Linked DNA regions of Homo sapiens. The protein of the gene in region 1 purifies or fractionates together with the protein of each later gene. This does not show direct contact. Each region holds a gene or a part of one and is shown on either strand. Other genes may lie near its edges.

Evidence for each region.
Region 2: the proteins of LZTS2 (region 1) and NUDT15 purify together in Homo sapiens (affinity purification with mass spectrometry; 3 studies listed by BioGRID and IntAct, with this or other methods). This does not show direct contact.
Region 3: the proteins of LZTS2 (region 1) and SIPA1L1 purify together in Homo sapiens (affinity purification with mass spectrometry; 4 studies listed by BioGRID and IntAct, with this or other methods). This does not show direct contact.
Region 4: the proteins of LZTS2 (region 1) and SESTD1 purify together in Homo sapiens (affinity purification with mass spectrometry; 3 studies listed by BioGRID and IntAct, with this or other methods). This does not show direct contact.

The regions. Positions count from the first base shown.
Region 1 is NC_000010.11:100,995,598-101,002,818, forward strand, and holds the start of LZTS2 (leucine zipper putative tumor suppressor 2), read left to right. Parts: upstream 1-4,210; 5' UTR 4,211-4,355; intron 4,356-6,899; 5' UTR 6,900-6,941; coding exon 6,942-7,221. UniProt on the Homo sapiens protein: Negative regulator of katanin-mediated microtubule severing and release from the centrosome. Required for central spindle formation and the completion of cytokinesis.
Region 2 is NC_000013.11:48,033,856-48,040,747, forward strand, and holds the start of NUDT15 (nucleotide triphosphate diphosphatase NUDT15), read left to right. Parts: upstream 1-3,870; 5' UTR 3,871-3,891; coding exon 3,892-4,049; exon of another isoform or gene 4,050-4,137; intron 4,138-6,892. UniProt on the Homo sapiens protein: May catalyze the hydrolysis of nucleoside triphosphates including dGTP, dTTP, dCTP, their oxidized forms like 8-oxo-dGTP and the prodrug thiopurine derivatives 6-thio-dGTP and 6-thio-GTP.
Region 3 is NC_000014.9:71,315,682-71,323,488, forward strand, and holds the start of SIPA1L1 (signal-induced proliferation-associated 1-like protein 1), read left to right. Parts: upstream 1-4,794; 5' UTR 4,795-4,822; exon of another isoform or gene 4,823-5,440; 5' UTR 5,441-5,500; exon of another isoform or gene 5,501-5,850; intron 5,851-5,992; exon of another isoform or gene 5,993-6,167; intron 6,168-7,253; exon of another isoform or gene 7,254-7,807.
Region 4 is NC_000002.12:179,261,832-179,268,758, reverse strand, and holds the start of SESTD1 (SEC14 domain and spectrin repeat-containing protein 1), read left to right. Parts: upstream 1-3,926; 5' UTR 3,927-4,260; intron 4,261-6,927. UniProt on the Homo sapiens protein: May act as the primary docking protein directing membrane turnover and assembly of the transient receptor potential channels TRPC4 and TRPC5.

The DNA.
Region 1 (7,221 bases):
TTGTGAGGTCTCTGTGAACTGGGGATAGAGGGATAGATACAGACTTGGCTGTTTGTCTTGCCCCACCCTTCTAGCAGACACCCCCACACAGCACAAACCAGAATGATGAGGGGGAGGGGAAGCTAATACTCCCCCCAGCCCTACCCGCTGCACAAACACGTTCTATTCCATACCTGCCTTAAATACCCCATATCATGATTCCACCCAGTCTGTTCAGATCCCTGGATTCTAGAAAGCAGTGGGGGGTCCCTAGGGCCTGTGCGGATTCCCTGGGATAGGACTGGTCTGTCTACACCCAACTGGATGTTAAGAATCTCCCTGACTCACAGGTTCGGTGGATTGGGAGGAAAAAAAAAAAATTTCCCTGAGATCTCAGGAAAGGCCTGGCTAAGCCAGGTCCAGTTGGATCTACAGCCTTGTCCTCTAATTGATAATGTATGTCACACTTGGCCATGAGGGGACAGCTTTGGTCCTCTGGCAGCTTCCTCTCTGCTGTGGATGGGTTTAAGAAGAAACAACTCGGCCGGGTGCGGTGGCTTACGCCTGTAATCCCAGCACTTTTGGAGGCCGAGGCGGGTGGATCACGAGGTCAGGAGTTTGAGACCAGCCTGGCCAATATGGTGAAACCCCGTCTCTACTAAAAATACAAAAATTAGCCGGGCGTGGTGGTGCGCGCCTCTAGTCCCAGCTGCTCTGGAGGCTGAGGCAGGAGAATCGCTTGAACCTGGGAAGCGGAAGTTGCAATGAGCCAAGATCGTGCCGCTGCATTCTGGGCGACAGAGCGAGACTCCGTCTCAAAAAACAACTCACCGAGGTCTCCTGTAGCCCATATGGGCCAGATACCTGTAGACCTTCCTACATGCTGCCTTGAGTGCCATGGTGGGAGGGAGCCCTTGGGGCCTCCCTGCAATACAGGCCAACTTCCTGTTTGTGCCTGTGGGTGGGACTTTATGAGTCTTCGAGAAGCCCAGCCATGCCCCGTGGGGGTCAGAACCCGCAGGCCTGCTCACCTGGGCAGATACCTACTCTAGGGAGGGGGCTGTGCTGGTTCTGCCTGGGCAGCCCCACGCTGAGGTGTGTGCGTGGTAGGGGTAGGTGGGAGCTGCTCTGGTGAAACTTGAGCCTTCTTTGTCTGCTTCCCAGGGGTTGTCCCTGTATTTGGGGATTGGGCCAAGAGTGGACCGGGTTGGGCTCCCATCGGAGCAGGGAGGGTGGCAGAGTCAAGCTCTTAGTTTAAGCTTAGTTTAAGGCAGCCAGGTAGCCGAATTCTCGGTCACGTGATGCTCGCCCCCTTCCCCAGGTCAAAAACCAAATCCAGTAAGCTGTGAAGTCAGAGGCCAGAGGGGCAGCCTCGGCCACCGTCGAGTCACTCTTAGGCTGGGCACTGGGTCGGCTGCTGGTGGAGTGCGGGGCAGACCACTCCCCTCCCTGGGTGGGGGGCGCGGCCTGAGCCGCCCCGCCCCGCCCCGCTCCACCAGGTCGGGCCAGGCGGGCGCCGGGAGCTGGGAGCCGGGAGCCCAGAGTTCGGAACCTAGAGTTCGGAGCCGGCTAGGGAGCCGGCGTTGTCGCGGCGAGGAGGTGGGCGCGCTGGAGCAGGAGCGGGGCCGGAACTGGAGCCGAGGCGCAGGTGGCGCTGGGTGAGTGGTGGGGCGGCGGAGGTGCAGGAACTCCCGCCTCCCGCTCATCCCCGCTCCTGAACGAACTTTCCGCTTCTAGGGAAGCTAGGGGTTGGGGTGAGGAGGGGGGTCCGCACTTGGTGGGGTCCCCGCGAAGAGTCCGAACAGGGAAGTGACACGAAAACGCACGCCGACGGGCCCCACACACGCGTGCACAGACCCACGCCCGCACTTGGGACACGCGAACACACATGCACTCGGAAAGGACGCGCCCAGTTGGCCACCCTTGCACTCCCAGGGACAGCGCCAGCCGGCCCGCGCGGACCCACAGCGGGCAGGGCACTCTGCGGTCGCGTATTGGGTGCGGGAAAGGGGCAGCCCTGTGACTACCGACGGGGGCGGGCCGGGTGGGACGCACCCGGAGGTTCCTGCTTCCTGGCCTCCCGCAGGTGAAGACCAAGACGTAAACAGACGCCGAGCACGTGACAGCTCCGCAGACCAGTGGCCTGTGCCCCCAACCCAACCACGGGGCGGAAATCCACCCTAGTCCGGGGCGCGTTTGCTTGGTCCCAGGCCGGACGGCGTTCCATTCTCCGCCTGGAGCGGGGATAAGCCCTCTCCCGGGAACCGGAGCACAGCGCCCCCTGGAGCCGGGGCGGAGCAGGAGGGCCCGGCTGCTGGGCAGGGCTGGGGTTAACTCGGGCTCCTGGACGTCCTTCTCCCCAGCACATTCTTGGTGTCTGCATCCCTGAAGGTTTCGGAGACAGGCCCTTGATGGCAGTGGACAGCTGCCCCCGCCTGTTACCGCCAGCCCAGAGAGCAGCTGCCTGAGCGCCTGCGGGTCCCCTTCCTACCCTCACCTCCACTCCTTGCGGGAGTCGGAGTCTCCTCCCCCCAGAAAATGCATGAGTGTAAACGCTCCCTCAATACCAGAGTGGGCCTGCCCCCCTAGAAAAAGGAGGACGAGCCCCTCCCCCCAGGGAATGAGGGAGTGGGCAGTAGCCCGATGCCTCCTCCTCGCCCCACCCCCTACCCCTACACACACGCTGAGCCCAGCTGCCGCCTGAGCTGGGCAGGCTGCCAGAAAGAGGAGGAGGCTCTCGGTGCCCCAGGAGGCAGGGATCAGGGCAAGGCCAGAGGAGGGGGCTCTGCTGGGGAGAGGGGCTCAGTCTGTTCTTGTGAGGCTGAGGGTCTGGGGTGAGTCAGGGTGGCTGGGCTGTGTTTCCCTTTCCAGGGAAAAAGAAAGAAAAACAACCCTGTCCATGGAGCTAAAAATAGAGCTGAGAGCCGGCCAGGGCTGTGGCCTGGAAGGGGGGGATGCTCCTTCCTGGGGCCCGGGCGAGCTCCGGCAGGCCTTGGCCCTGCGGGGGAGGGGGTGGTTAGGGGAGAAAGGCTGCCTTTGCCCAGGGATGCAGGCATCAGCTGACCTGACCGGGTCACCGAGACCCCTAGGGGAAAGGCTGTGCGGTAGAATATTTGTGAAGCACGGCGTGTAAGAAGTTGTCTGTGTGAGTGACTGTGAATAGAGGCTGTCAATGCGTGAAAGATGGTTAGGAGACTAAGTGCACTTGAGACTGTGACTGGGTGCGAAGGACTGCGGATTGTTGTGGAAGCCTGTGCCCAACAGGCCTGTGACACCGTGTCTGTGTGTGAGGTGGACTGGAAGATTATGGAAAGAAGGAACGCGGACCCACGTGACGGCTGAGACTGCGGCTGCATGTGGGAAAGGTCTTGTGGGTGTTAGGGAGACTGTATTGTGTGCGAGAAGGTGAGACTACTTGACCCTGAGGAAGTGGAATATTGTCTGCCGTGAGGCTGGTGTAGGTTTGGGCTGTAGGCTTGCACCGGTTCGCCCCAGTGATTGTTGGGGAGCCAGGGGCCGCTCCTCTCCGATAAATGACCTCTCTCTTAGCAAGTGATCCCGAGGGGAGGCTGGGGAGCACGCGGTCGCGCCAGAGGCCGGCCTGGGTTCGCGGGGAAAAGGGCACCGTGCCGGGGAGTGGGGCAGGGCCCGCGTGTTGGGGGCGGCTGGGTGTGTTCTCCGAGCCGGCCGCCAGGTGGCGTCGCCTCCGCGAAGCCCAGGTTGCCGCCTCCAACCCGCCGTGGGGCAGGCGCGGATCGAGCCTCGGCCTCCTACTCGGGCTAGGGCGCGGGGTCCCGGCACCGGAGAGTGGGGGACGGCCGGCCATCGGCCTCTCGCTTGGGACTCTGAGGCTGAGAGCGTGTCAGGGAAGCTTCGCCTGGAGAAGCGGAGGGGGAGGGGCGGCCGCCGCCGCGCCGTGGCCCTTTGTGCTGGAACAATGACCAGCTGCCGCTGGCCCCGGGGCCCCGGCTGGGGTTGAGGGTGACCACCGCCGCCGCCGCGTCGAGCCGAACCGAGCCCCCAGACACGCAGTCACAGGGCGTCGGAGGGAGGGCTCCCGACTGCCGCCGAGCAGCCCCTACGTGCGCCCCGGCGGATTCGCGTGACGCGGGTGCTTGCGCGTGTCCGCGCCCCGGGGCGGAGACGCCCCTCGGACCCTCCCCTGCGCGGTGCCGCCCACTCGCACCGGGCGGGGGCTGGCCAGGGCCGGGGGCGCCGCGGAGGCGGAGGCGGGGCTGGGCCGGGCAGCTCCGAGTGGCGGCGCGCGGGCCAGGGCCGGGGCCGGGGCCGGGGCCGGAGCCGGAGCCGGGGCCGGGCGGCGCGCCTGTGGAGCGCTGGGGGCGGCCTGGGGCTGAGCATGGAGCAGCGCGGCGGAGGTGAGGGGGGCCGGGTCTGGGAGGCGGCCTGGGGAGCCCCCAACTTATGCGCGGTGGAATCCAGCCGGGGGGACGGCGTTCCCCAGTCGCCCCCACTTTCTGGAAGGGGGGCTGGACTCTGGAGAATGGGTCAGGGGCTCCTGGCTTCCCGCCGCAGAATGGGAACTCGTGATCGCAGACTTGACCCCGCTTGACTGGTCCTTGGAGTTTGGGTGGGAGGGAGACTTTCCCCAACTCTTCAGATCCGTCTCCGGCCCTGAACCAGCTCCAGCCCTCTGCTCTCCTCAGCCCACTAAAAGGGGGGTGCTCCTGGGCCAGAGTGATTGCTCAGGGAGTGCTGGGGAGAATGAGGGGTTCCCATCTCCCACAGCCACAAACGCATTTCTCAAAATGGAGCCTCCACTTGCCCCTCCTTCTCTTTCGGGCTCCAAGAGCGGGAGCCGGCCTGGCTGGGCCTGGCTTTCCAGACTCCTGGCTCTGGCTCCCTGGATGTGTGGCTCTCAGGGCCCGGCTCTGTGGCACTTTGGACTTATGGGCCCTCGGCTCCGTGGGGTTGGGGGGCCCTGGCTCACTGGGTCCCGCTGGCTGTCCCCTTGTCGGCCTGACCCTCGGGCCTCTCCGAGTCTTTGTCTCTTTTGGGTCCCTGTCTTTCTCTGAGCCTGTCTCCTTCCTTCAATTTTCACTTTCTCCGTGCTCGCTGAAGTGGGGAAATGCAACAGAGGTGCCAGCCCCCTTGGCCCCCTAAGAAGTCCCTTCCCCACTGTTCACTCCACACCCTGGAGTGGGCCCAGAGAGGGGAGGGGAGGGGGTTCTCTATCTGCTCTGCTGGGGGCTGGGGTGTGTGGGGTGGTCTGAGCCCCAGCCCTACAGAGGGGCCTGTGGTCACTCCCTGCTCCTGGCCTACCCCTCCCCCAGCTCCCCGCAGCTCCTGCCCCAGCGTGGACACCTCTTCCTGGTTCGCAGTGTCTTTTGACTTGGGTGGGAAGGAGGGCGGTGGATTTAATGGAGGGCATGCGAGAAAGAAGGGGAACAGATCAGGCAAAGGAGTTAGATAATGTCCCACCTCTCCCCACACGCCGAAGAGAGAAGGAAACAGGCTCCCCCCACCAATGGGCCCTCAAGCCACCCAGGCTCCCACCACTCTCATACCTGCGTGCCCACGTTCACAGGCTCCACTGCACCACTCACCTTCCTAGTCACACACAAACACAGGAGCTCACACATAAACTCATGAACTTACTGACAAGTCTGTCCAGGCACCGTCTCTCCCACACACCACAAATTCACTTGTTAGATCCACATTTATAACTTTCACAGGCTTTCTAATGACCCCTGATCCACATACTCTTCTAAGATATACACATGTGAATTCACACATGAACTCATATGTATGTGAATGAACTGATATATCAAACATGCATAGACTCACATGATGTTTTCACACACATTTTCATACACACGTGTTCATTTTCATGCTCCTGTGCATGTAGTCACACAACAAATAACTAAATGCACACACTCCTACTCCCAGTGCAATTCTCTGTCCACTTCTTGGCCCCGCTCTGCATGATGACTTCAGCAGATGCCTAAGTCCTGGTCATCAGCGGCCTCGGGACTGGGACTAGGGAGGGGGTTCCGGGTGGAGGCTTGCAGCTGCTTCCAGGAAGGAGCAGAGCCTGGGGAGGTGGAGCCCTCTTGCCTGGGCTCTGTGGAAGTGAGGTTTTGGAGCAGCCTCCAGAGGTGAAGGCAGGGCATCTACCTTCCTCCCCTCAGGGTTAGTTTGGGGACCTTCTGAAGCTGTAGGGTTTCAGAGAGGTTGGCAGTGGGGCAGAGCCTGTGGAGGCTCCTTCAGGCCTTCAGGCCTCACCGATTGGGTGTGCAGAGGCTAGGAGTTGTCATGGAAACTGGTATGAGCCTGCATCCACCTCTGGGAGGCAGGAGACCCCAAAGGACACCTGTGGACTCCCTAAGAGCCGCGGGTTTCTTATTTAGCCAGATCGACAGAGAGGCAGTTTAGCCGCCTTTCTGTCTGAGAGAAACTGAGGCCCAGCAGAGGGAGGCAGGGCACTGCCTGGCCTTGGCTCTTTGTTCCCTAATTACCATCTGAGGTGCTGATTGCACCCCTGAGGTACCTCTGCCCAAACTGCCCTGTAATGAGGCCACCTGGCTGAGAGGACCAGGGACCTGTGCTTCAAGCTGGTAGAGAAGGCCCCTCCCTCACCTGAGTCCTGGCCTCTGTGGAGGATGCAGGATTGGGCTTGGGCCTGGGTCTTTGCTGCCAGGTGGCCCTGCGGTAATCATCCAGGCCTCCCATGCCTCTCAGCATCTCTGCTGAGTGAATTCACTCCTCAGCCCTGTTCAGACCAGCATTGGGCAGTGTGGTTTGGGGCCCAGGGGGAATTGAGATTCATTCCAGCACTTGAAGGGGGAGTCTTGGTGGGGATCAGGGCTTGTTACTGATGTCAAGGAGGTGTTTGGTCAGGATCAGTGGGTCAGGAGGGGTCTCAAGGTGGAGGGACTCTGACACCACTGCCCTGCTTACAGGTCGCCTGCGAGGCCGCTGGCCAGGCCTGAGCCTCTGCCACCATGGCCATTGTGCAGACTCTGCCAGTGCCACTGGAGCCTGCTCCTGAAGCTGCCACTGCCCCACAAGCTCCAGTCATGGGTAGTGTGAGCAGCCTTATCTCAGGCCGGCCCTGTCCCGGGGGGCCAGCTCCTCCCCGCCACCACGGCCCTCCTGGGCCCACCTTCTTCCGCCAGCAGGATGGCCTGCTACGGGGTGGCTATGAGGCACAGGAGCCGCTGTGCCCAGCTGTGCCCCCTAGGAAGGCTGTCCCTGTCACCAGCTTCACCTACATCAATGAGG
Region 2 (6,892 bases), on another chromosome or scaffold:
AAAGGACATGAATAAACATTTATCAAAAGAAAATATACAAACAGCCAACAAACATGAAAAAATGTTCAACATCACAAGCATCAGGGAAACGCAAATTAAAACGTGAGATACCACCTTACGCCTGTAAGAATGGCCATTACAAAAAAGTAAAAAAACAATAGATGTTGGCCTGGATGTGAGGAAAAGGGAACACTTTTACACTGCTACTGGAAATGTAAACTAGTACAACCACTATGGAAAACAGTATAGACATTCCTTAAGGAACTAAAAGTAGAACTACCATTCAATCCAGCAATCCCACTACGGAATATCTACCCAAAGGAAAATAAGTCATTACATAAAAAACACACATGCGGCCGGGCTCGGTGGCTCACGCCTGTAATCCCAGCACTTTGGGAGGCCGAGGCAGGCAGATCACGAGGTCAGGAGATCAAGACCATGGTGAAACCCCGTCTCTACTAAAAATACAAAAAAATTAGCCAGGCGCAGTGGTGGGCGCCTGTAGTCCCAGCTACTCAGGAGACTGAGGCAGGAGAATGGCGTGAACGTGGGAGGCGGAGCTTGCAGTGAGCCGAGATTGCGCCACTGCACTCCAGCCTGGGCAACAGAGTGAGACTGTCTCCAAAAAAAAAAAAAAAAAAAAAAACACATGCACATATAGCAGCACAATTTGCAATTGCAAAGACATGGAACCAACCTAAGTGTCCATCAACCAACGAATGGATAAAGAAAATGTGGTATATATACACCATAAAATACTACTCAGCCATAAAAAGGAACAAGATAATGTCTTATGCAGCAACTTGGATGGAGCTGGAGGCCATTATTCTAAGTGAAGTAACTCAGGAATGGAAAAGCAAATATTGTAAGTTCTCACAAGTGGGAGTTAAGCTATGAGGATGCAAAGGCATAAGAGTGATACAGTGGGCTTTGGGGACTCGGAGGGGAAAGTTTGGAGGGGAGTGAGGAATAAAAGACTACATATAGTGTACACTACTCAGGTGATGGGTGCACTAAAATTTCAGAAATCACAGCTAAAGAACGAATCCATGTAACCAAAAACTTGAAATTAAAAAAAAGGAAGAAGTCAAACTCTGTAAAATAGTTGAAGGGATGTATTCTGAGCCAAATATGAGTGACCATGGCCTGTGACACAGCCCTTGGGAGACCCTGACAACATATGCCCAAGGTGGTTGGGGAGCAGCTTGGTTTTATACATTTTAGGGAGACATGAGACTTCAATCAAATACACTTAAGATACAGATTGACCATTGGTTTGGTCCAGAAAGGCGAGACAACTTGAAGTGGGGCAGGGGTTCCAGGTTATAGGTAGATTTAAATTTTTCTGATTGGCAATTGGTTGAAACAGTTATTATCAATAGAAAGGAATGTCTGGGTTAAGATAAGACGTTGTGGAGACCAAAATTTTATCATGCAGCTGAAGCCTCCAGGTAGCAGGCTTCAGAGAGACTAGATTGTAAATGTTTCTTATCAGACTTAAGGTCTGTGTTAATGTTAAATGCTAGTTGGCTTTTCCTGAATTCCAAAAGAAAGGTGGCATAATGAGGCATATCTGACCCCTGCTCTGTCATGGCTTCAACCAGTTTTTCAGGTTAACTTTGGAGTGCTCTGGCCAAGAGGAAGGAGTCCATTCAGATGGCTGGGGGTGGAGGTGCTTAGAATTTTATTTTTGGTTCAGTTTTATAGTCTTCTGTATACAAGTGTTCCATATCTTTTGCTAAATATATTTCTAAGTATTTTATGTTTTTTATGGTATTATAAATGGTATTGTTTTAAAAATTTACTTTTCAATTGTTCATTGCTAATATATAGAAATATAATCAATTGTGTATATTAACCTTGAATCCTACGACCTTGCTAAACTTATTTCTTCTAATGGCTTTTTAATTAATTCCTCAGGATTGTTTTAAAAAAAAAAGACGGTTACTTATTCCTTTCCAATTTAACTACGTTTTATTGATTTTTAAATTTTATGAGTTGTGCTAACTAGAATCTCCAGCAACATGATGACTAAACGTGCTCAGAGTGGATACCCTAGCTCCTCCCAAATCTTGTCTTTCACCAAGATAAGGCTAGGCTAGTGCTATGGCTGCCATAACAAAGTATCAAGCCATAACAAAGTATCAAAGATTGTGTGGCTTAAATAACATAAATTAATTTTCTCACAATACTGGAGGCTAGAATTCTAAGATCAAGGTGTCAGCAGACTTGGTTTCTTCTGAGGCTGCTCTCCTTGGCTTGTAGACGGCTGCCTTCTCCCTGTGTCATCATACAGTCTTCCAATAGAACACAGTCTGGGTTCTAATCTCTACTTCTTGCGAGGACACCAGTCATAACATTAGAATAGGGCCTACCCTAGTGGCTTCATTTTAACTTGATCCTGTCTCCAAATGCTGAGGTACTGGGGGATAGGACTTCGACATAGGAATTTTGAGGGGACACAATTCAGCTCAAAACAGTCATTAAATATGATGTTAGCTGTAGGTCTTTGTAGATGCCATATATCATGTTAAAGTTTCATTTTATTTCTAGTTTGCTCAGAGATTTTGTGGAGTTTTTTTAATCACAACTGAGTATCGGATTTTATTAATTTTTTTCTGCATCTATTGAGATGATTATATGTATTTCCTTTCTCCCTCTGTTAATATGCTGAATTACATTGGCTTTTCAAATATTAAGCCAACCTAGTATTTCTGGGATTAATCTCATTGTTCAATATATTATCCTTTTTATATACTACCATTTTTTGAGAAGATATTGTAAGTACCTTTGTAATGAATGTGAATGTTGATAGTGAGGAGAGATGCTGTGAAAAGCTTAATACCCATTTAGTATAACATGGAGAGTAAGCATATTACTTAGAAATAAGTAGGCAAATATCAGAAATACAGTTCAAAGAGTTAAAAGTGATTGTTTCTGAAAGTAGGAGGGTCAGGTTGCTCTTGTTGCGGTTTTTGCACCATTTTACTTCTTAAAATTATAGCTATAGGTCAGGCGCAGTGGTTCACGCCTGTTATCCCAGCACTCTGGTAGGCCCAAGTGGAAGGACTGCTTGAGGACAGGAGTTGGAGATCAGCCTCGACAAAAGACCGACAGCCCACCTCCACAAAAAAAAAAAAAAGAAAGAAAATTAGCTAGCTTGGTGAAAATTAAAATAAAATAAAATTACCAGTATGTGCACATTACTTTGGTAGAAGTAAAAATAATGAGAAAGAGAGAAAACCCTCCCAGTAACTAGTCATTTGTTTTTATGATTCAGCTGGTTTGTATTTTGCATGGTGCATGGTGTGCAAACATCTGAAAATGTCTGTTTTCCACTGTTTGTAACTAACTCTTCCCAGCATGATTTATCAATTAGCCTTTATTTCCTCCCATGACTTATGAATATACCTTAAGCATAGTTGTTTATAATGGGATGTTTCTAAACGACCTATCCTTATCCTGGTACCACGCTGATTTGAGCTACAGGGCAAATGGGTGCACCATGGTGGGCGAGGTCATTCACGGAAAAAAGAATGTGCAGTGGTGCCGAGGTTGGTAAGAGCAGGCGGCTTGTACATGTAAATGCATGGTTTGCAGGAATCTGGGAGTGGATAGGCTGACGGGTGATGAATATTCAAAGCACAACTGTAAGCGACTTTAGTTACAGCGAAACTCTAAGGCACGCTGCCCTTCGGAAGGAAACACGGCATTCCCCAACCTGATAGCCCTCCGCGACGCATTACGCACCGCGGACAGCTGGAGAGGCCGAGGCGCTCTCGCTTTGATTTCGGCGCCTCCGCCCTCGCGGGGAGAGATTGGCTGCGGCCGCGGGACGGGGTAGTGAGCGCGTCACTTCCTGCCGCTGCCAGGCGCGTCCTCCCGCGCGCTATGACGGCCAGCGCACAGCCGCGCGGGCGGCGGCCAGGAGTCGGAGTCGGAGTCGTGGTGACCAGCTGCAAGCATCCGCGTTGCGTCCTCCTGGGGAAGAGGAAAGGCTCGGTTGGAGCTGGCAGTTTCCAACTCCCTGGAGGTCATCTGGAGTTCGGGTGAGCAGCCGCGGACGCGAGGAAACCGGGGCGTGCGCAGAGGGACGAACTCACGCCGTGCTTGCTTCCGTGTGCCGTGCGTGAGAACGTCCGCGCTGACGCTGCGTCCTTTCTTGCGCGTTCCCTCGGTTCCTCCCCTCGACTTCTGGGCGACGTAGGATCGCGCCCAGGAGGGGGCGCTGTGCTGGGTCAGGCGAGGTCTTTGCTAGCTGGGTCTTTCCGGCTGCGCCCCTGCTGGGTGGTGGTTGGGAGTTCGTCTGTGAGGTGTGTTTCTCACAGCTTACACACAAAAGGAGGAAAGCAGGTGTGTGTAAACCTCCAGCAGCCCGATATTGTCAGCTAAGACATTGCACCGTTTCCATGTGATTGATTGATTGATCGATTGATTGATTTGAGACTGTGTCTCGCTCTGTAGCCCAGGCCAGAGTGCAGTGGTGCTATCTCCAGTCACTGCAACCTCCGCCTCCTGGGTTCAAGCGATTTTTGTGTCTCAGCCTCCTGGTAGCTGGGATTACAGGCGCCCGCTACCACGCCGTGCTAATTTTTGTATTTTTAGTAGAGACGGGGTTTCGCCATGTTGGCCAGGCTGGTCTCGAACTCCTGACCTCAGGTGATCCACCCGTGAGGTCAATGACCATAGCCAACATTGAGCTCTAATGGGCTTTTTGTTAAAGGCTGGATAATATGCCAAGCTCTTTGCATGTATACTTTCATTTGATCTTTACATAACTGGCATACTCAGTGGGCTAAATTTGATGGGAGAACAAACAGGAAATGGTTTTATTTTCTCCTTCCACTGCCTTCAAACATGATTTTTTCTTTCCCTCTTCAGTGACGTTTCCTGCAAATTCTATAGTTTTCTTGTCACTTGGTTATAAAAATAAATCACATTTGGGTCAGTATGATTCACTTCCAAGCATTTAAAAGTCCAATCCAATTTAAACCTTCAGTGTCACTTCCAGTTTCTAATCCCTCCCCTGCAGTGCATAAAGGAGGTGTGAGCCATTGTTCTGCTTTTCTGTATCCTCCTCCTCTTCTCACCTGGCTGTCTCTGAGTTTCCTTCTTTCTCCAGTGTGTTGGAGGAGGAGAGAGAGCAAGCCATTCAGGTGACTGATGCTGCTCTGATCCATCCATTGGTGTCCTCTGGGCATGATATCCACATGTGTGCTTTCTCAGGGTATGTTTGTCAGTTGTTGGGAAGTCCCACAGAGATTTTCCTGACATAGGTGACGGGCTTTCTGTGATGCTGGCCCACCTCCTAGCTCTTGCTTTTAGCACATCACCCCACATTTTCTTTCTACTGGGATCTCCTATTTGATTACCCAGCAGTCTCTTGTGGCATCTGCTTGGCCCAAAGGAAACACACAATGGGAATGATATTTCCACTGCTGCCCTTTTTCCTTGCTCTACCTCTGTATTCATCTGCATCTGGAAACTCCGAGGGACACATTTCAGATTTACCCAAGAGCTTTCACCCTTGTAGCACACCTTTTCTGATGCACTGGGGTAGGCCTGTGAGTTTCTGCAGCTCAGGATGTCTTTAGCAGGGGAGTGACACACTGAGTATCTCCTTCTTGAGTCACTCCCAATCTTGTGACTGATTCTCTTGGAATGTTCCTCACCTGTCTTGGGGGGGCAGAGTTGGCCCCTTGTAGTCTGGAAGGGAAATGCTCCTACTAGGCTGAAAACTCCAAACTTTCCTCTGTCTCAAACATCTCCTTTTTTTTTTTTTTTTTTTTTTTTTGAGACGGAGTCTCGCTCTGTCACCCAGGCTGGAGTGCAGTGGCGGGATCTCGGCTCACTGCAAGCTCCGCCTCCCGGGTTCACGCCATTCTCCTGCCTCAGCCTCCCAAGTAGCTGGGACTACAGGCGCCCGCCACTACGCCCGGCTAATTTTTTGTATTTTTAGTAGAGACGGGGTTTCACCGTTTTAGCCGGGATGGTCTCGATCTCCTGACCTCGTGATCCGCCCGCCTCGGCCTCCCAAAGTGCTGGGATTACAGGCGTGAGCCACCGCGCCCGGCCTCCTGTCTTTCTTATGTAGCCTGGATACGGAGAAGTCACAGGTCTAGTCTGGCCTTCCTTAGCTTGAGCTTGAGCTCAGATGACATCTGTTTGCCCTTTTGCTTGAGAATTTAGAAGTGCTTTTTACCTATTGTCTTCAGTTTTGAGGCTTAAATTGAAATTCTGAGACTGCTGGAAAAGACATAGTGGCACTTCTTGATACAATTACAGTGACCCCATGAGGAAGTAATATAATCTCTTTTTACTTGTCCAAGGTGGAAAGTAATGAACTTTGAGCTCAATCCCAGGTCTAGTTGACTCCAAAGTCTGCTCTTAATGCACTAAACTGCCTCCTTGTTACACACAGGTTCCAGGGCTGTAAATTAGTGCTGAGATGGCTAAATGTTAATTTTTATTCAATATTAAGTCCTTTTCATCTTTAGATAACTAGATACAGGATATAATGTCAAGGGCAAGGTTGCTGATTTACTGGTTTTAAATCTTTATCTTTTTAATTAATTATTATTACTATTTTTTGAGACAAAGTCTTGCTGTTTGTCCAGGCTGGAGTGCAATGGCACCATCATGGCTCACTGCAGCCTTGACTTCCCAGGCTCAAACTATCCTCTTGCCTCAGCCTCTTGAGTAGCTGGGACCACAGACCATAGGCACGCACCACCATGCCCGGCTATTTTTTTTTTTTTTGAGAGATGAGGTCTCACTATGTTGGCCTCAGCTGGTCTCCAACTCCTGAACTCAAGCTGTCCTCTTGCCTCGGCCTTCCAAAAGATTACAGACATGAGCCACATGCCCAGCTGATTTGTTGTTTTAAAGCAGG
Region 3 (7,807 bases), on another chromosome or scaffold:
GCGACTACAGGCACGCGCCACCATGCCTAGCTAATTTTTGTATTTTTAGTAAAGATGGGGTTTCACCATGTTGGCCAGGATGGACTCGATCTCTTGACCTCATGATCCACCTACCTCAGCCTCCCAGAGGGAACCGGTTTTGAGAGGGATATCTGGAGTTCAGGAGGGCACTGGTTTTTGGGGGAATATTTGGAGCTCATCAGTTTTAAACATGTGAAATTTGAAATACCTAGTACATAATCAATTGCAGATGTTGAGTAGCAGATGGATGTACAAATCTGGAGATGGGGGAGATGACTAGCCTGGAGGTGTAAGTTTGGGAGTATTTAATGTATAGATGGTATTTAAAACTATCAGACTGGTGAGCTCACCACAGAGTGAAAAGAGACCATAAAGAGATGTCCAAAGTCTGAGTCCTGGAGCCTCCTATGTTGAGAGGTTCAAGACTAAAAAGACCAGAAAGGTAGGATAAGAACTAGGATAGACTCTTGGCTCAGAAGCCAAGGGAAGAAAACATTTCAAGAACCAGCATGGTTGACCTCTTCCCTGCTGCTGAGGGCTCCAGCCAGGTGAGCTTGGAAGTTGAGCACCAGATTTAGCAATAAGGCAGTCACTGATGCCCCTGAGAAGACCTGTTGCTGTGGAGTAGTGGGGGTGAAAGGCTGCTCAGAGTGGATTCATGGGAAGGGAAGGATAGGAATTGAAGACACCAAGCATGGAAGAGCCTTTTGAAGATTCCAGTTATAAAGTGAAGCAGGGGGAGACATAAAATTTAGGAAGCATTTTAGTTTTTACCACGGCAGATATTCCAGTATGCTTGTAAGCCCTTAGAAGTGAAGCAGTAGAGAAGGAAAATTTGCTGATTCAAGAGAGAGTGGGGACAGTTGCTGAATCAATGTCCCTGAGTTAGAGGTGATGGCACTAATGCACAGACCGAGGCTAATCTTGGCTAAGAGCACCAAGAGTTCATAAATGACAGGAAGGACAGAGGAGTATATGCAGACAGATGCAGGCAGGTTGGTAGACAAGAGTGATAGAGAGGGTATGTGTGTTCAGTTCTCTTCTGATTATTTCTATTTTACCAACAAAAGAGGGAGCAAGGCCATTAGCTAGAAGTACTAGGCAGAGGTTTGATTAAGGAGGAGAAGATGTGAAACAGTCCTTTAAAGAGGAGGGAAGAGCACAGGGAAGTATAGTAGTTTTGCTGTTAATTGATTAACAGAACGTTATAATTATTTATAACAACGTTATAAAGTAGTTGGTGTTTTAAACTTGTAATGAATACTACTATGTAAATGAGAGAAGGGGCATTTGCTAAGGAATCCAGTATTCATGTAAACAGAGTTACATCAATAAGGCTAAAATAATAACACCCTAAAATTAAAACAACATGGGATATCATTTAATCCTGAATAATTTTGAGGGCACTTTGGACCTTTGTAATGATTTAGAGTAATCTTTCTAAATATCACTTAGAATAATGCCCTGCAGATGTACAGCTACTGGAGTTCTGAATAGGCCAGTTAAATCAGATTTTAAATGTAAAACATGCAAATGTGAGTCAGTGTTTATAATATTAAAAAATACATAAAATTTGTATGGTAGGCCTCTGTGTCAAAATTCATTCTATATTTGGTATACACTATACATTAGGGTGTTTTGTTGAGTAGAGGTAAATAACCAGAGGGAAATGAATTCACCTGGGTTTTAACGAAATAAGAAGCAAATAGGGAGGGAACAACATAGCAAATGACTAGATGTTCTTATCACTAGAAAGGTTACATATCCTTTGTGTTGGAGGGCAAAGGCAAGGGGTTGAGCAGAGATGGGTAGAGGAGCCAAGACAGTGGACAGGAAGTGGACTGAGATCTAGTCTGTGCTCTTGGCAAACTCTCCATTCCGCATTTCCCTCTTCTGCTGCCTGACATCTGCTATTTTGAAACCTAGGAAGGTCAGGAAGATACAGCAGGAGTGACTGACCTAGAGAATGTGCAGTTGGAAACTAGGCTTTGGTAGCTTTCACTTTTTATCTCCTTTAGAAACACGGATGAAAGTTCTGCCATCAGTGAGGGATAAATAGTAGCCCAGGGCCTTGAAAAAGCAGTTTTAGATCCCTGGGACAATTTCTACTATTTTACTATGTCTGAAGATTAGGGAGGTTATTTTTGTAATTTGAGGCCAACACCCATCTCTTGAGCCTTATATGAAGCACTGAAGAATGTTAATAGATTTGGCTAGCATTTGGGTCAATTATTTCAAATGGCTATCTGGGAGTCATAAAACAGATGGTCCTGAAATTGTACTGCGTTGGTGGATGTAGATTGGCAGCCATCTTTTAAGGGCAAAATTATGTTAAAAGCTAAGCCAGAACAAATGAGCAACAACTGATTTATAATATTTTGCAATGTTATGAAAAATGGTTCCTTAAAACAGATTCACAGGACTGATGGTGATGTTCCATTGTGTTTCTTTGTGAAAATGTGATATTAAACACACCAGTAAATGAATCTGAGGCCCTCCGTCCTTCCCCTCCTCCCTCCCTCCCTTCCTTCCTTCCACAGATCTAGTCTTCGCTCCTTCCTTCCTTCCTTCCTTCCTTCCTTCCTTCCTTCCTTCCTTCCTTTCCTTCCTCCCTCCCTCCCTCTTTCCTTATAGTTATTTTGGGAGTATGGATGTATTTAGTTTGGGTCTTTGGTTTTAATTAGAGTATTTATTAAATAACAAGGAATCTGCTTTGAGTTAGTGTAAAAGCAAATCATGAACTATAGATTACCTTTGAAATTACTGTAACATGGTCAATATTTTTGTTGTTTTTGTAGTTGGGACAAGATAAATTTTAAAATAAAATTGTCAACATTTAAAGAAAATTGTCAACATATAGCTACTCTTTGTGAAACTGACCTACTATAAGATGAAACTTTTTTTATCATTTGCTGTAAAAGGAAGATTTGTTATTTATTGGAAAATTTTATAGGTCTAAGAGCTCTTATATTAAATTATATATATATATATATATATATATATACTCACACATACATATGTGTATATATATTTAGATGCAGGATCTCACTGTGTTGCTCAGGCTGGAGTGCAGTGGTGTGATCAGAGGTCACTGCAGCCTTTAACTCCTGGGCTCAAGTGATTCTCAAGCCTCGGCCTCCTGAATAGCTGGGACTACAGGTGCATGTCAGTATACCTAGCTAATATTTTTTATTTTTGTAGATACAGGGTCTCTCTATGTTGCCCAGGATAGTCTCAAACTCCTGGCTTCAAGCAGTCTTCCCACCTGGGCCTCCCAAAGTGCTGGGATTATGCATGTGAGCCACCATGCCGGCCAGCTATAGAATTTTAAAGCTGTAATAACCTAACATGTGGGGTACCCCCCACAGATGAAGAATCAGAGAGATTAAATAACTTCTCAAGGAGACTCAATTATTAGTGGCACAGAAAAACGTAAACCCTAGTTTGCTGACTTTGTCTAGTATCACTTAGGTTTCTAATACACAAACTTTCATTGACAGGATTTAAACTTGCAAGTGACTTACAAGTTTTGACTGCCTAGTCCTCATATGCTTAGGTTATGCTTTAGGTTTCTAGTTCTGTGGGACTGAGTTAAATAATGGTTTCCCCATGTTCATGGATAGGAATTTTAAAAATTGAGATATAATCCACATACAATGGTATCTATTTTTACTCATTCATTTTGAAATCTAAAGTTTAACTTCTATTCATAATATCCATTTTACTTAGGCAGTGAGTATATAATAACCCTCACCTCAGAAAAGTTTCTACAGTTAAAAGACACGGGCTGAGGAGAGTTCATCTTCATCCTTACTAGCATTTTGGAGTACGTATAAAGGCGTCTGCGGATGCCTAATGATTAAAAAAAAAGTTCCCCTCACCATGGTGAATAGGGTTTTTACGAGAAAAATATGGAGAAAGCAGAGATTATTACCATTGAAAAAGACAAGGTGTTAACAGAAATGGGAGGGTAGCTTGATAGAGTCCAAACTTGACTGAACTCTCTAGGTTAGGGCCAAAGGCAAGTACTGAGGACAGGCATGGACTGTTGCGTTCAACTTGTCAAAAAAGTGGCCAATATGTAGTATGGACCAAGCCTATAGAGGCGCTGAGAATACAGAGATGAATGAGCCAGTTCCTGAAGGAGCCCAGTCTGCGTGTGTTTGCGAGTTGAGAAGAGGAGGAGGGAGGCAGCATGGGGAGTGTGGGGATGGAGGAATTAGATTGAAAGAGAAGGCCGAAAAACTGAATATATAGTAGAAATTTGGGGTGCAGATATGTGCTGCCTAGAAAGGCAGAAACCTGTCCCAGAACCTCTTAATACATTAGTCTCATTTGCCAAATTTGGCCAGATATCATGACTGTGGTCCTCTCGAGATGCCCTCTTGAATCGGCTTAAAAATTATCCTTCCGCAACCACCCCTAGCTTTCCCCACCGCCAGTGCGCCGGGCAGGTTGAAAACTGCACCCACGTTTGCAGCCTCTGCTCTCCGCAGGAGACAGGAATCCAGGGCTTTGCCGTCGTCATAGCAACCAGAAGTTCCGCGGTCCCCTACCCTCCCGCGACTTTTTCCACTTCCTCCGCCTGCAGGGCCCAGCCGCCGCTTCTCTCGCGAGACTTGTGCGCCGCGCTAAGCCGCTCCGTGGTGATCTCACCCGAGACTTGGGGGAGAGGGAGGAGTGAAGGAGGGGAAGGAATGGGGCGGGAGGCGGGGCGGGGAGGGGAAGGGCGAGTGAGGCGCCGCCACTGCCGGCAACTTTGTGAGCGAGTTCAGTGCGTGCGTGAGCGAGTGAGCGAAAAGTCAGTGCAGCGCCGAGTCCCCGGCTGGAGGGTCCCCGGGGAGGGCCAGGTCTGGGCCCCAGAGGCCGCCCCCGCAGCCACTCCATTCCCTCCCGCCTCTGTGGCTCCCTCCCCATTTCCTCCCCCACCGGTCGTTGGGGCCTTCCCGCCCCCGTCCGCACTTACCTGTCCCCTCCCCCATGCGGTACGCACCTCCTCATCCCCCCCCCGGCAACCTCGCGCCCACCTTGGACCTTCGGAGCCCGGACCCCCGCACTTGCTTCCCGTACTGGCCGCCCCCTCAGTTCTTTCTGCTGGCGGGCGGGATGGGGGCGCTGAGCCTCGGGGACGGCGCGAGCGGGGGCCCGGGCGCCTAGACAATAGTTGATGCCCAAGGACGGGGCCACCTCCGCCTTCCCCTCCTCCGGGAGCTCGGCCCCCGCCGGCCCCCCGCCAGCCTGTATTCCGGGTCCCCCTCGGAGCCAGCCTCGGGAATTGGGCTGATTCCACCCCCGCCTCCCTCGGGCCCCCCTCCGCTCCGCGCTCGGCGCCCGCCTCGGGCCGGCCTCGCCGCTCTCCGCAGAGGAGGCGGCGAGTGAGCGCGCGCCGGCCGTCTACACGGTTTCTCTTTCTCCCCAGGGAGAGCGCGCGGCGGACGCGCCCGGGACGCGCGGCGGCACCGGGAGGCCGGGCCGAGCGGTAAGTGGTCCCCGCGCCCGGGTCCTGGGGGGAGCGGGGGTGCAGGACGGCTGACAGCCCCCTGCCCTGTTTCTGGCCGGGGTTGGGGTCCAGGGCCCGGAGCAGGACCCCAGGAGGCCGGTTAAAGTTTGATTTTCGATTTGGTGGCTTGCTGGTAGCTTAGCCCGGCGGGGGCGAGTCCGGCTTCACCGCGCCCGGCGCGCGCGCACGCACCCCAGAACCCGAATCTGCACAACTACTGGGCAGGCGTCTCTGCGGGAGGCCAGGAGACCCGCGTCCCGGTCCGGGCGGTTGCGTCCACCCCGCTGAGCTGGTCGCCACCTGGCGACCCTTCCCCTCCAGTCACCTGGGTGAGCGCTTTGCAGCCTGAGCTGGAGTAGGCAGGCCGAGTTGGTTGAGTTGTGGGAAATGGAGACGAACAGCTCGGTGCCCGAGGGTGGTTAATTTCCCCTTTGGGGGTCTTGGGGACATGAAATTTTGGGATGCTCTAACCTGCTTTCCGGGGAGCGAGTAAACCGCGAAAGGGCTGGGAAGGCGTGAGGGTGCCGCAAAAAGAACTTTTCCTCCTTCGCCCCATCTGTTACCAGCTTCTCTCCTGACCTTAAAGGAAATTTCCGAGGCTCTTAAATCGCTCCACGGCATTTCTAGGTGGACCAGTAATCGTGTTGGGCAGGTTGAAATTTCATCGCGGTTTGGAGAACAGAGAGACATGGGAAATGGCTCACTTCCAAGGAAGATGTTTAGCTAAATTGTTGGCATTCGTTTTCTAAGAGAAGCATTTGGGGATTGATGGCTCCTAGACTACGATTACCTTATAGATTTTATTTTTCCTGACGGGTAGTTTAGAGGCAGCATTCGCTGAAATGCATACTACCTGTGAAACGATCATGTTTCTAAACTGGAGCCAGCGATGTGATGCAAATTTCAGAATAAAGGTGTCGACTTTCATCAGGTTCCAGGTCTATCTGGATGGACTGGGATTGGCGTTTCCTCTATAAAGCAAACCTTTCATGTTGAAACTCTGAGTCAGACTCTTAAAGCCATTGTCTTTATGCTGGTACTCTGTGGGAGTTAAGTGTCAACTTTCTCCTGTTTTCTCCTATGGAGTATCCGTCCAAGGCAAAGATTCTCTGACTGAATCTTTTGGAAACGTGCAAGGTTAGATCATACTGAATTCTGCAGCCAGTTTAGTAATAATATTAGTTTTCTATATAATCCTGATTTAACGACTGTCATTTTTCTCTTCGTTTTTTGAAAGCTGCAATTAAGCTACCTTTACCAGGATTTAAAAAAGAGGATAATATGGAACAGTGGTAATAACAGTAGGTCTCAGCTAATTTATTATGGCCACCGATGTGTCCAACTATTAGATGACATCCCAGTTATTAACTACAATATTAATATTAAAACATTTTTCCCATGGAATCAATTATGCTAAAGCATTAACAATTAACAGTGCATTTAAAATGATGAGTGATTGTTTCCACATAAATGGTTAGAGGCAAAATAAGAGATTTGGGGGATGAATGGCTTTATGTCTCTGACAACTAATTTTCTTATTAATGCTTAAGTAAAGGACTCTTGAAGTTGACTGTCATTTGATTTTTCTAGTTGACTGAGTGAACAAGTTTGGTGAGTGGCTTGAGACAGTCAGTAGGTGTTGCTGTTGTTAGCTTCTCTGCAGTTCCTGCTTCTGCTCCTCGAGTTTGAAATTGCAATTCTGGTACAGTGAACTTTTAAAATCTGAAGTATCAGTCAGTGATAGTTGTGATTTCATTGGAGGAGTCTATGGCAAGGTTGACTTCAACTCCAGGTAATAATTGCAAAGCACCTCTCTGATACTTTGTACTGAGATTCATTTAACTCTTCTTTTGTCTCTGTCCTTACACTAGTATTTTCAGGCTTCTGCATTTGCTTTGCTTTTGCTTTGAAGTATGTGTGTAATTTTGGTATAGTGCCCCCATCTTCATTGTTTAGGAACTTTTAAAAAACACTTTCTAGTGAGTTTATTGAAGTCATAGATTGAAGATTGCTTGAGATTAGCAGTTTTGTAGACTTCGGGGGGATCTTGGTTGAGTTGTGATGTATATATGTTCTATCTTAAGTTGCAATCTGAATTTTTAGATAAATGACTGTTTTTCTTTTTTTAAAAATCTGTTTGAGCTGTGAAATGGGAGCATGAGGAGAGCTGAAATGGTATGAGAGTGGAATTTGATGGAAAGTTTGTCATGATTAATAATGTGACTATGTGCCTCTTATCAGTCCTTACCGTTGTATTATCATTGTTATTGGTCCGTATCAGTGCAC
Region 4 (6,927 bases), on another chromosome or scaffold:
TGATCTGCCAGGGCCCTTCCTGCCCATGAACACCCTCTGTGAGTCCTTCTGGATTTCAGCTTCCTCAATTGATTGCCTGATTGGATCAGGGTTTTTTTTTTTTTGGACTGATTTTTTTCCCCCCAGGTCATTTTTTGAATGAGTATGACTTGCCTGTGTCTAGGTCAGTGCCCACCCAGGGGCAATCAACAGTGATTCAGGGATTACACAGACAACACAAAAGAGTATATTGCCTGGGGCCACCCTTCAGCAAGGGCTGGAGGAGGGGCAGTTTCTCCAAGCCAACTTTGGTGCAGGATGACTGTGTAGCAAATTACCTAACCGAGCTGAGTTTCAGGAAATTGGCAGTAACAATACCAGTTTGAGACAGACTGAGAATTCTTCAGTGGTTCAAGCAAACAATGTATGGAACACACTCATAGAAGGCATTTTCACTATTAATTTATGATATAAATAAAACAAGATGAGTATGGGAAGTTATCTAATTTTAGATGACATTCAAATGTGGCTTAAAAAAAAAAAGCTTGCTGGTATGGTAGCTCACTCCCGTAGTTCCAGCTACTCGGGAGGCTAAGGTGGGAGAATCGCTTGAGGCCTCGTGTTTGAGACCAGCCTTGTCAATACAGGAAGACCTCATCTCTTAAAAATAAATAAATTAGGCCAGGTGCGGTTGTTCATGCCTGTAATCCTAGCACTTTGAGAGGCTGAGGTGGGTGGATCACAAGGTCAAGAGTTCGATACCAGCCTGGCCAACATGGTGAAACCCCGTCTCTACTAAAAATACAAAAATTAGCTGGGCAAGGTGGCACATGCTTGTAGTCCCAACTAGTAGGGAGGCTGAGGCAGGAGGATGGTTTGAACCTGGGAGGTGGATGTTGCAGTGGGCCAAGATCGTGCTGCTGCACTCCAGTCTGGGCGACACGGTGAGACTCCCTCTAAAATAATTAATAATAATAATAATAATAATTAATAAATCTAAAAGAAGTAGTAGAGGAGAAATTAAGAATTTAGAAACTTGTTGCTTGAGGTGGCTTTGGATTCTTTTTCTCCACCCTTTAATGTTTTTAAAATGTTACTCTCACTTCACATTGATTTCTAGTTGGCAGGGGCTTCTGTACATAACTTCCAAAGTGATATTTAAGAGGAATAAATGCAAAGATCTGCACAGTTTCCAAAAACAAATTGCAAAATACAGGTTGGAGAAGATATGGTTTTATAGCTGTATATATGTTAAAGACTTAAAAAAGATTTGGGGGTAATTTTTGCTTGTTTTTAGTTGGCAATAACATGATATTTATGAACGGTATGGGGTGGTAGAAAAATAATGTGATATCAAACTGAATTTTGAAATATCTTCATTAGGATGCAGAAAATTGTACTCCTCTACTCCTTCCTTTATACTTGGAATATTGTATTCAGTTCTAGGTGCCACATTTTAAGAGACACTGGAGAATGTTTAGATAAATGCGTATGGAGACGAATGAGATGTGAATAAAAAGTGGGTGGAGAAGGCACACATTGTGACTGCTGACTTCAAATGTTTACAAGGCTGCATATGGGGGGGAACCATGCTGTTCTGTATTAAACAATGTTAGTACTAGGTTCAGACTCACTGGACACATTCATACGCATTGCATTCATATTTACAATAATGATTTAAGGTGCTATTATTATCATTTTCTCCTTTTAGAATGGAGCAAACTCATACTTGGAGCAGTTTTGTGCTTTTCTAAGGTCACACAATTAGGAAGTTATAAGCCCAGGATTTGACCAACTTCTTTGGAGTCTAAGTCCAGTGGTGTTTCTACCAATACTGTAGCTACTTACCAAATGTATACAGAGACAGATTTTAGTTGAACATAGAAACTAGCAGGACTGTTTAAAAATGAAAACTGTTGTGAGGTCATGAATGGTTTCCTATCACTTGGAGTTCAAACATATGCTGGATAGCTACATTGCAAGGATCTAGCATATATATATTTACTTTTATAATAAAATATTAAAAACAAATGCTAATCATAGAGCCAAAGAAACTCCAGAAGTAAAGCCTCATGACTATAAGTGATTGAGCTAAGTTCATTCAGTAGTTATTGGAAAACGTAGCATCCAAATTTCATTCTCTGAATTTATAGTTTAATGTTTTTTCCATTATAGCAGTTACCTCTTATCTAACACCTAGGTAATACAATGTGGAACCAGAAGTATGTAAAGAGGAAGGGCAGGGATATTTTGTGAATTATTATAATGGATTGCTTGGCATGCTCTTGTTTTACTAGGATAAGCAAAGAATGTGAATGGTAGTTGGAGAGAGTTTAAAATGATAAGCAGAGAATGCCACATAGTAGAGAAGGGAAAAACAGAATACCACGGAAGGCTAAAAAAGGCTGGGACTGTGGACTTCCCTGTATTTTCTTTTCGTTGAGTAGATGCTCAACATCTATTTGTTGGGATGGAAAATTATTTCAACGCTTCAGCAAACAGTTAAAGAGAACCTTTTTTGTGCTGAGCACTGTGCTATGTTCTGGGGAGCAAAAAAAATGAACTAGACAAAATCCCTGTCCTTTTAAGGAACACACAGTCTAGGAAGAAAAGGCCACCAAGCAAAGCAACAGGAAAAAAGCAAGTATTAAAGATTATCATAGGGAATACTGTAGATAGACGATTTTATGAAAGCAGAGAGAAAAAGAGTATTTAATTCATTGTAAATGTGTGGGGTAAGGATACAGATGTGGTGAAAGGAGATGATGTCAGGGAAGATTCCAAGGAGGAAGGGATGCATTATCTTCATTATCTTGAAGGACAATAGGAGTTCAACTGGTTAAATGAGGGATGGATTTCAGGTGGGGGAAAACTACAAGGGCACAAAGACAAAGTCTGTTGAATTTGTGTGATACGTAGATATATTAGGAGTTGAAGCTGGAGCCAAGGAGGTCAATAGATCAGATTTTAAATGGCTTTGTAAACCATGGTAATGAGTTTGAACCTGATTCAACCAGGTGGAGAGACTTTGAATGATTTTAAAGAGGGACGTTTCATGCTTAGCTCTGTCTTTTTGGAGCATTCTCTCTGGCAGTTATATGGAACTGAAGCAGCAGTGAAGTTAAAGGCTTGACCTAGAGTGGCAAAGAGGTGGAAGTCATGGAGACAGACTGATATTCACAGAATTAAGAGGAAGAATTAATCCACGGGATTTTAAGTCAGAAAACTTTAGTGGAGAGAAATTTGGTTGCTTAGTTGTTGGAATAGGAAGATTTTATCAACGGAATTAGGTGATACTGAAGTGAGTGGCTGAGTGAATAATATGGAAGTCTTGAAATTGGGACCACACAGCTGCTCTGATCTGGTGTGAATTTGCTGATGACTCTTTTGAACTGAATTCAGGAAATGACATACAAATGATTTGCGCAATAAAATGAAAACAAGGACTCTTAAGTCAGTATACTTGGAGAAAAATAACTAGGTTGGTAAAAATGGGGAAGTAGCCATTATCAGGGAGCCCCATTGTGGATTAATTTTGGACTGTCCAGTGGAAAGATCCTCAAAGCAAAACAAATGCCCTGAATCCAGCCCTTCCTCACCGCAACCCTTTCCCTTTCATCTGCCTTCATCCTTCAGCCACACCACCGCTTGGCAGTGAGTACTTGGGAGCAGCTCTTGGAGACTTTGTACTCGAACCTTCGAACTCCAGCATGAGGCCAGAGGAAATAAATGACCTGCCAGGGTGTCAAGTAACGGACCCTCTCTTAAGCCCAGACTTCTGACTCCAGATCTAGGTACCCTTCCACTCTCCAAGACTGCCTCCCGCCTGGGGAGCCTGGGCCTCGGCTAGGGGTGGGGACGGCAGGGTCCGTCCGGAGCGCCAGAGTCCCACTCGCGCCCAGCCCTCAGCCCCAGGCCCGGTTGGACGCCCCGCCCCGCCCCGCCTCCTTCCTCCTTCCCGCGCCGGGCGGGTTGCTGTACCGCCGTCACCCGGGCGCGCGCGGGGTCGCGCGGACGCGGCTCGGGCCGCGGGTGCCGAGAGGTCGCCGGGCCACCCGCACCCCCGCTCCCCGCCTGACGCACGGAGGGGCCGGGACGCGATTTGCCGCGAGTGACTGGAGCCGCAGCCGTCGCCGCTGCTGCCGCCGCCGCCCGGGCCCGCTCCGCCCCCAGCCCGCCTTCCTCCCGCCGCGCCCTCCGCCTCCGCCCGCACCTCGCTAGCGTTCCCCTGTCTTCCCCAACGCCCCGGAGCCGCCGGCCGCTAGCGTCAGCGCCAGCCAGGTGAGTGTGGCCGCCGCTCGGCCCGGGCGGGAGAAGCGCGCAGGCCCCGCGGCCGGGTGGCCGGCTTGGGCCGGTGCAGTCGGCGGCGGCGGCGGTAGCGGGCCCGGCTTTCTTCCCCTGCGCGGGCCGCGGGGCGGAGGGGCTACGCAGTGAAGGAGGGGCGCCCCCGCCCCGCCACCGCCTCTGCTCCCAACGCCCCGACCGCCCCCACCGCCTTGCCGCCACAGACAAAGCGCCGGAGGTGGGAGCCCTGCGGGCCGCCTTTGCCTCCGCGCCGTCTGCCGGGTGCGGCCGCGGCCCGCAGAGACCGGGCCGCGCGCTTTTCCGTTCCTGAGCGCCCTTGTTCATTTCTGGGTGAAAGGGACCCGAATTGTGCAACAGGTTTGGGCGTTAGTCCTTATTTTCCAGCGGGTCTCTTTTGCCAGCGTGCAGGAACCAGATGTGGCTCCCTGCTCTCGGGCGAGTCCCGCGTCCAGCGCCCGCGACTGGCTCCTTTGTGTGACCGGTGACCGGCCCTGTCGGGTGGGTGGAGGACACGGGCTCGAGGCCCCAGGGCTGCGCCGAGGCTCCTGGACGCCTCCTCAGGTCGCGGGGCTTGGCTTCCACGGGCCTGCCAGAGGTTAACATCCCTCCAGCGTTTGGGAGAGTCACAAAGGGGAGGAGAGAGAGGGTTGGCCAGGGTCTGTGGTTGTGTTTATTTTTCTATTTTAGGTAGACTCATATTAGAAAAGAGCCGCAGTCTGACCAGCTCTTGAGGGTACGGGTGGGATTTCACCCTGGGATGCACGGTTTGGACTTGGCTGTTGCTCTGACAGCCCCCGTGGTTTTCTTGGTGCTTTGACATCTTTCTCTTACACACAGACATCGCGGGAGAAGTTGGGAGTGCTGCCGAGGGAGTAACTAGATAGCAGCTGTTTGACAGGTCGTCTCTTACTTCACGTTTTGCTTGTGTCAAGCATGCCCACTATGTATCCCAGCATAGCTTGGCAAACCGTCAAATTTAAATTGCCACTCAAAATCCTAATCCTTATACATACCTACATACACAGACACACATATATCTATATACTTTTTCTGTTTTGGCTGGCTAAATCTTATTAATGTGAGAATTTTTCCTCCCAAGGAAGAATGCATAATAAGGTACAATTTATCTTTGGTTACATACCTTGGTTAAGTTATGCCAATACCTAGCTGGTTTCATTGGTATGCTATTTTAGTTTAACAATACTAATTCCTTTAGCTTTGAGCAGTAAAATACGTCTTTGTTCTAGGACCAGGAAGCTTTTATACGTAATACTTTGCCCCATGACTAAATACGTGAAAAAATTCCCCAAGGACCTAGAAAGCATTTCACAACTCTATAGGCTGTTTTTATGTTCCAAATTCCAGGAAATCGTTTTGTTGAATATTTATTCAAACATTCTGGACTAAATTTAACCTTAAAAATTGGGCCCACTCTAGTTTTTCCCCAGCATTAGAAAAATGAATTGATTGCATTTACCAAACATTTTAGCCCCTGTGAATAAGAATTGAATGGAATAATTGATGTAAGAGATTAGGAGCTAGTGATGGACTAGGAATCTGACAACAGAATGCAGAATGTAGAAAGTTGTAAGTAGAGGTCACAAAGTTGCATCTACTTGGGTTTTAATTCATTGCTAGGCATTTAATGACATTTTAAACAGGTAATCTACTAATGATATATCTGAAAATGAAATGTCCAATAATTAAGAAAACAAAGTATTGCATTTTGACCTTTTTAAAAAATGTATTTTTATAAGGACTTGTTGAAGCTTTTCCACTCTCTAAAAATGAACTTGGTATTAATGACATTTCTTTTGAAAAAATGAAATTGTACCAAACTAATCCGATTTTTAGAAAGTTTCTCTGTTATAGTAGTTTTACTTTACTAAAAATACCATTCATCTGTATAGTAGCTAACTTCAAAGATCTTTTAAAGCTGTTACAAGCAACATGAGCAACCTCTTGAGGAAAGTAGAATATTTACTAATAAAAAGTAGCAAGCAGAGAAGTGAGCCATGATTGGACCACTGCATTCCATCCTGGGTGACAGCCAGACTTTGTCTCAAAAGAAAAAAAAGCAGAGACTTAAATTTTTATAATAGTTTTCTTTGAGATATAATTCATATGCCATAGAATTCACTTTTTTAAAGTATGCAATTCAGTAGTTTTAATATATTCACAAAATTATGCAAATGTCGGCACTAATCCAAGAACGTTATTACCCTAAAAAGAACCTTGTACCTGGTAGCTTTTGTTACTATTCCCCCTTCCCCATATTTGACAACCACTAATTTACTTTATGTCTCTATGGATTTGCCTATTTTGGACATTGCATGTGAATAGAATCATAATATGTGGCCTTTAGTGTCTTTCACTTAACATAATGCTTTCAGGGTTTATTCATATTATACCATGTATCAATATTTCATTCCTTTTATGGCAGAATATTATTTTGTTATATGGCTATGCCACATTTTGTTTATCCAATCTTCAACTGATGGGCATTTGGGTTGTTTCTACTTTTTGGCCATAATAAATAATGTTGTGGATACTCATTTACAAGTTTTTGTATGGTATATATGCTTTCAATTTTCTTGGATGTATACCTAGATGTGTAATTGCTGGGTTATATGGTAATTCTGT